Linked DNA regions of Homo sapiens. The protein of the gene in region 2 purifies or fractionates together with the protein of the main gene of each other region. This does not show direct contact. Each region holds a gene or a part of one and is shown on either strand. Other genes may lie near its edges.

Region 1 (3,826 bases), on a different chromosome or scaffold from region 2:
GAGGGAAATAAACAGCACATTTTAAAAAATAGGTATCTTATTATAATGGGATTACTTGTATTATTAACCTAATGTACTTTTGGGGAATTTTTATAAGGTTTTTATTTTAAAGATTTTATGTTTTCCTTATTCTACGAGCATTCTTTTGCTTATTTTTTTAACACTTATGAAGTATTAGTAATTTATTGCTAAGAAAGATATTTTAAGAAAATTAAGTCTAAATTTTTTTTTAATGTAGTATATTCCAGAAGATATTCTTAAGAATTTAGTAGAGGAGCTTCCTCAACCACGAAAAATACCTAAACGTCTAGATGAGTACACACAAGAAGAAATAGACGCCTTCCCAAGATTGTGGACTCCGTAAGTGTTTCCCTTCTTCTTGTTTTTTTTTCTTTTGATATCCTCTGTTTCCTCAACCATATGATTAAATAAGATCCTTGAGGGCGGGAAGAGTGAACTCATTTTTTTGCTCCCCTGGGAACTCAGCAGCTACTACCTACAAATAAACTCTAGATGTAGGTATTAGAACCAAAAATTTTTAAGCATTAAGACCTTGCTAGATAAGTGCGAGGATGTTCATAGGTTCCTATAATTATCAAGTATTTTGTTTGGGCTGATGGTAGTCTTTAGGAATGATATATGAATTGTTATTAATCTAAAACGTAATGATTCTCAGTTTTCCACATTGTTTCATAAGTTAAAAATATTATCTAATGAAAAGTCATTAATTTTGGATACTTGTTGTCTTGGTCCAAAAAGAAAAACAAAATAAAAAAATACTTTTTGCTCTCCTCTGTACAGTTTCCTCTACCTAAGGCCGTAAAGCTGCTAAGATGTAACATTCTTTCTCCCATCTAGTTGTTTCTAGGCTTTTTTGCCAGGGCTATCCAGATGATGAAGCATTTAAGTGTAACTTCCTCAGGCAGTCCTTCCTGTAATCTTTGAACCGGGTTAGGCTCTCATTATGGGTTCTCATCGTACACTTCCATTTACTGATTTACTCTAATTATATATTTGTGTGATTATCTGTTTACTATCTGTCTTTCTTGCTAGACTTCATGAGGGAGCTACATGTTTGTCTTATTTAGCACTGAGCATGGTGCTGGACAAATTAAATAGACACTCAGCCAGTATTTATTGAATAAATTAATTAAGACTTTTATCAGCTTTTATAAGTGACTTTAGGAAAGAATCTCTAGAAAATATGAAGCAAAGACCACTTTTCATTTTTTTCACAGCATTTATCACTATCTACTGTACTCTCATTTATATGTGTGTCTGTTATTTGTCTCTCTACACTCATGGCAATAATAAAAATAGCAAGCACTAATAAAGCATTTATTGTGTGCTTTACATGTATTAATCTACTAATCCTCAGAGCAATCTAGTGAGTCAGTACAATTTTTATTTTTATTTTTATTTTTTAAATGAGAAAATATGGGCACAGAGAGATAAAGCAACTTGACTAATATCACATAGTTATAAATGGTATATTAAGGATTCAAGCCTGAGTGACTAGCTGCTGGGTCATGCTCCTAACTCTGCTGGAATGCCCCTTCTTGCATTGGCATGTCAGCTTCAAGGGGGCAGGGACATTGTCTGGTTCAACATTTACATCTTAGAAATACTTAGAAACCCTTAGAAATAGTACTTGGTGCATAATGGGCACTCAGTAAGTGTTTTGGAAAGAATGAAGACATGAGCTCTTTCCCTAAAAATTAATTGTGAAATTTTCATGAATAGCTTAAGTTTTAGAAAAATCCAAACCAAGGTTCAAATCTTGCCTCTATAGTAGCTGACTCTATAACCTTAAGTAAGTCATCTTTCATTTTGAGCCTTAGTTTCTTCATCTCAACTCAGTTTCTTCAGTTGTAAATTAGAGCCACTCCATACTTCTGAGAATTGCTGGAAGGAGTAAGTGAGCAACTTAGCACACTTGAAGTGTTGACTAAGTTTTTAATAGGAGAATTTTTTTGCTATTGCAAATTCTATACCATTTTAACATGCTTGCTAGTGTAGAGTTTTATTGTAAATGTACTTAAGTTGATGTAGTTTGAAAATATTCAGCTTTGATAAGTTATATACTAAAAACATTTTAAGTTGTCCTTGAAGTTTTGACAGGTTACCTTCCTATAACAGTTCTGTAAATATGTATCTGATTTTCTTACAGAAACACCATCATAAATGAATTTATATTCCTGACCAAGAGGGGTGTGGTACTCTTTTTTTTAAAATTAGAAATAATAAAGTTGCTGTTAAATCATGTATGTGCAAATACATATTATACACTTGAAGTCATATTTCATGAATATTCTAAAGTGTATTCTAAATCAGTTAAACTGGCACCACACTAATATAATAATTCACAAATTATATTTAGTGTTATTATAGTCAGAGTACTGACCAAAATTTTCATTCTGCTGAATGATTTCTGCTTTCTTTTGAAACAAATTAGAAAGTGCCTGAGTGCCTTCATTTTATTAATAGAATTAGAAAGGGCTTTTCTATAGCTATTTTTAAGGAGATTTTTAGAGAAACTTAGAGCCACTAGATGCATTTTTTAGTTACTACTCTGGGAATAGATTTTCCTGCCCTCTCTCTTCATTCCAGATTTCCCTGAGGCAGGAATATGCATTAGACACTAGGTTTTCCTTTATGCTTTATTAAGGTTGTGATTTTTTCCTCATAAATAGTCACACGCATATGTTAACTTGTATTTTCAAAATAGTAAAATAGGTATACGTTTACTGAAACGTATGGATAGTATAGGTGTACTAGTCATTTAATATAAATCATTCTGTATTTCTTTCTCCCTGCACATTTGAGCTGACATCAAGTCCAGTTAGTCTTTATTACGTGAAAAGTGTGTGACCAGGAAAAATATAGTCATTTTTGGATTAACCAAAAGCTTATCTAAGAAATAGATGATCATTTACTTCAAGGCTCTTGAGTAGAACTTTCTACAATGATGAAAACAACTCTCAGCCAGGCATGGTGGCTCATGCCTATAATCCTAGCACTTTGGGAGGCCAAGGCAGGAGTACCTCTTGAGTTCAGGAGTTCAAGACCGGCCTGGGCAAGATGGCAAGACCCTGTCTCTACAAAAACAAAAAACAAAAAAATTAGCCAGGTGTGTTAGCACACACCTGTAGTCCCAGCTACTTGGTAGTCTGAGGCAGGAGGATCTCTTGAGCCCAGGAGTTTGCAGCTGCAGTGAGCCATGATCATGCCACTGCACTCCAGCCTGAACAACAGAGCAAGACTTGTCGAGAGAAGGGGAGGGAGAGGGAGTGGGAGAGGGAGGAGAGGGAGAGGGAAGCCTGGCGCGGTGGATCACCTAAGGTTGGTAGTTCAAGACCAGCCTGGCCAACATGGTGAAACCCCATCTCTAATAAAAATACAAAAAAAACTAGCCGGATATGGTGGTGGGCACCTGTAATCCCAGCTACTCTGGAGGCTGAGGCAGGAGAATTGCTTGAACCCGGGAGGCGGAGGTTGCCGAGATCGCACCATTGCACTCCAGCCTGCGTGACAAGAGCAAAACTCCATCTCAAAAAAAAAAGAGAGAGAAAGGAAGGAAGGAGGGAGGGATGGAGGGAGGGAGGTAACTCTCTATTCGAGCTTCAAATACATTAGCTACTGTTGACGTGTGGCTCTTGAGCCCTTGCACTGTGGCTAATGTGACTAAGGAACTGAATTTTTTATTTGATGTAATTTTAGTAAATAAAATTACGTGTTAGTGAATAAAATTACGCTACCTTCATATGGCTAGTGTCTACATTATTGGACTATGCTATTTTAGTTATTGGACTATGCCATTTTATAA
Region 2 (3,826 bases):
ACTCTAAGACTCAGAGTTTTTTAATCTTTTCTTCTACTTCTCACTTCTTAACCAATATAGAAGACAAAAATAACATTTTAATTTTATATATTTCTCATTCAAATTAAAAAAGAAAGATGAGCCAGTTCAGTTCATATTTTGCACTAAAACTAATTTAACATTCCAAAGTTAAATTATTTGTGATCAACAAAAGGAAAAACATCTTACCCTATTAGCACCATCTGACATTTTCATCACCTTAGCATCATTAAATACAACAGGTCTGAGGTTGGAACTATAAAAAAATACCAAAAATCCCCAACCCCATTCATAATGCACACCACAGTTCAGGTAAGAACAAAAACTCACCATTATCTTTATTTTCTTTCAAAAACCCATTAACAGCGTGTTTGAATTTAAAAATAGTCTCATCATCAGGCACTTGATGTCCAACTGTAAAAATTTTTAAGTAAGGAACAGTTTCTGGCAAATCCTATAAAGCAAAACCATAAAAGATGTGTATTATTTCACTTGTAGAGAAATAATTAAAGAGTAATTAGGGGACCCAGAATATAAGCCAAGAGATTATAACAAACTTAATATGCCAATATCAGTATACACAATTCTGATAAAAGAGCCATTTTTTCCAACACTGCTTCAACCAGGAAGTATCACTTGATTTTCAATAAAACTACATAATAGATAGTCACTAGGTATACAAAACTGAAAGCAAATTCCATGTGAATGAATGCATATTTAACTATAAATTATATAAACAGTTCCATTTAATATTTTATAATTCAAGGGCCAGTGCCTTCATAAAGCAGCTATGATTTAAGTAGAAGAGTAGAGAATAGAGTCAGAAGAACTTGGATTTGAATTGTGAGATAGAGGGAATTCCAGGCACTATTGAGAACCGATATTCTTGGGGTGGGAGAAAAGTAGATACAGATAAAAGACAGAAGAGGCTAAGTCAAAATCATTTTAACCATCCACAAGTGTATAGTTCAGTGGCATTACATTCACAGTATTGTGTAACCATCACCACTGTCTATACCCAAAACTTTTTCATCATCCCCGACAAAAAGACTCTGACCACTAAACCATAATTCCCTTTTCTCCCCACCTCATAGATCCTTTAGTCTGCTTTCTGTCTCTGTGAATTTGTCTATTCTAGGTACTTCATACAAGTGGAATCATATATTTGTCCTTCTGTGTCTGGTTTATTTCACTAAGCATGTTTTTAAGGTTCATCCATATTGTAGCACGTATTAAATCTATTCTTTTTTATGGCTGAATAATATTCCATTTAAGACAGCAATTAAAAACATGTAATTAGAGAAATCACTTGGTTCTCTTTTAAACTTACTACCCATCAAAGAAGGCCAAGCTTCACATTAGCACAAGATGATTACTGAATTACTATAAATTATTTTAGGATCAGAAGGAAGAAAGTTCTTTTCATTGAAGGGTTCCACTTACCTCTGGTTTATAATAGCGTTGAGTATATGTTAAATCAATAATCAGTCCAAGTTCTTCATTTTGTTCTCGGATTTTGTTAAAAAGATCCAAAGGGGAAAAGCATTCTTCTGGAGCAAGTTTCTTTTCAAAACTCTGTCACAGAGAATGAAATAAGAGCAAATATGTGCTTAAAATCCTGTACTACATTAGGCATTTATTCAAGTCCTGTGATGCTAACATACAACGAGATTCAAAGGAAAGTTTCCATTCTCCTGGAACATAGAAGGTATATTACAACAATCCTTTCTTCCAGAGTGGTCAGAAAGAAAAAAATAAGCCCACTTCTATATATGTATTTCTGTATTTGTTTCATGTTGGTCTCCTAATCAGACTGTAATCTCCCAGATTTTATTCACCACTGTATCTCCAGCTCCAGGTGGAGTGCTTATCATATTTAGTGCTTATAAATATTTCTTTTCTTTTTTTTTTTTTTTTTTTGAAACAGGGTGTTGCTCTGTCATCCGTCATCCAGGCTGGAGTGCAGTGACACAAACATGGCTCACTGCAGCCTCCACCTCCTGGGCTCAAGCAATACTCCCACCTCAACCTCACAAGTAGCTGGGACTACAGGCATGAACCACCACACCTGGCCTTTTTTTTTTTTTTTTAAAGAGATAGGGTCAGCTGGGCGCAGTGGTTCACACCTGTAATCCCAGCACTTTGGGAGGCCAAGGCGGGAGGATCACAAGGTCAGGAGATCGAGACCATCCTGGCTAACACTGTGAAACCCCGTCTCTACTAAAAATACAAAAAATTAGCCAGGGGTGGTGGCAGGCGCCTGTAGTCCCAGCTACCGGGAGGCTGAGGCAGGAGAATGGCGTGAACCCGGGAGGCAGAGCTTGCAGTGAGCCGAGATCACACCACTGCACTCCAGCCTGGGTGACAGAGTGACTCCATCTCAAAAAAAAAATTTAAAAAAAAAAAAAAAAAAAAAAAAGAGATAGGGTCTTGCCGTCTTGCCATGTAGCCCAGGCTGATCTCAAACTCCTGAGCTCAAGCAACCCTCCTGTCTCGGCCTCACAAATAAATATTTCTCACATGTCTACATATATGAAGGATGGCTTTCATTGCTGAATATTCTTTTATGTATGTGGCTTATTTTTGAACTTTATGCTCTGTTCCTTCAATCTGTCTGGCTACTCAGGTGCCAGCAATGTACTTTTTAAAAAATAGACTAGTTTGGCTGGGTGCGGTGGCTCAAGCCTGTAATCCCAGCACTTTGGGAGGCCGAGGCAGGAGGATCACGAGGTCAGGAGATCGAGACCATCCTGGCTAACACGGTGAAACCCCATCTCTACTAAAAACACAAAAAAATTAGCCAGGCGTGGTGGCAGGCGCCGGTAGTTCCAGCTACTCAGGAGGCAGAGGCAGGAGAATGGCGTGAACCCAGGAGGCAGAGCTTGCAGTGAACCAAGATCACACCACTGCACTCCAGCCTGGGCGACAAGCGAGACACCATCTCAAAAAAAAAAAAAAAAAAATAGACTAGTTTTCAGAGCAGTTTTAGGTTCACAGCAAAACTGAGCCAAAAGGACAGATAGTTCCCACATGTACTTTGCCTTCCCCAACCCACCCAGACTCCCCCACTATCCACATTCCATACCAGTGTGGTCCATTTGTTACAAATGAAGAACCAACTCTGACACATCGTTATCACCAAAGTCTAGAGGTTAGGTATGCGTGATTCATTCTATGTTATGCATTGTATGTACATATTATGTTATATATATTTTGCCACAAAAAAAATGAGAGAAAGAACTAAGTTCAAGTTTTGATTCTTCCTTTTCTGAGCCTGTTTGATTATCTACAAAATTATTTATTAGATGTAACCATCTATTCTCTGAGCTTAGTGCAGAATAAGCACTCAGTAAGAGATATTAGTACTACTGCTACTTCATCAGCACAGGATTGTTGTGAAATGTGTTAATATACGTGAAGCCCTTTTATAGGTTTTGATCAATATATAACATGTATCCACCCTTAGAGTATCACACAGAATAGTTTCACTTCCCTAAAAATTCCCTGTGTCTCCAACACCTTCTTTTTGGAGACAGGGTCTTGCTCTGTTGCCCAGGCTGGAGTACAGTGGCATGATCATGGCTCACTGCAGCCTTGACCTCCTGGGTTCAATCGATCCTCCCACTTCAGCCTCCTGAGCAGCTGAGACTACAAGCACACGCCACCGCGCCTGGTTAATTTTTGTATTTTTTGTAGAGACACGGTTTCAGTGTTGCCCAGGCTGGTCTAAAACTCCTGGACTCAAGCGATACACCCACCTTGCCTCCCAAAGTACTGGATTACAAACATGATCCAACAGGCCTGGCCT

Evidence for each region.
Region 1: the proteins of DUSP11 (region 2) and MRPL13 purify together in Homo sapiens (affinity purification with mass spectrometry, with the first as the bait; one large-scale study listed by BioGRID). This does not show direct contact.

The regions. Positions count from the first base shown.
Region 1 is NC_000008.11:120,410,525-120,414,350, reverse strand, and holds part of MRPL13 (large ribosomal subunit protein uL13m), read left to right. Parts: intron 1-238; coding exon 239-360; intron 361-3,826.
Region 2 is NC_000002.12:73,773,452-73,777,277, forward strand, and holds part of DUSP11 (RNA/RNP complex-1-interacting phosphatase), read right to left. Parts: intron 1,594-3,826; coding exon 1,462-1,593; intron 473-1,461; coding exon 349-472; intron 1-348. UniProt on the Homo sapiens protein: Possesses RNA 5'-triphosphatase and diphosphatase activities, but displays a poor protein-tyrosine phosphatase activity. In addition, has phosphatase activity with ATP, ADP and O-methylfluorescein phosphate (in vitro). Binds to RNA.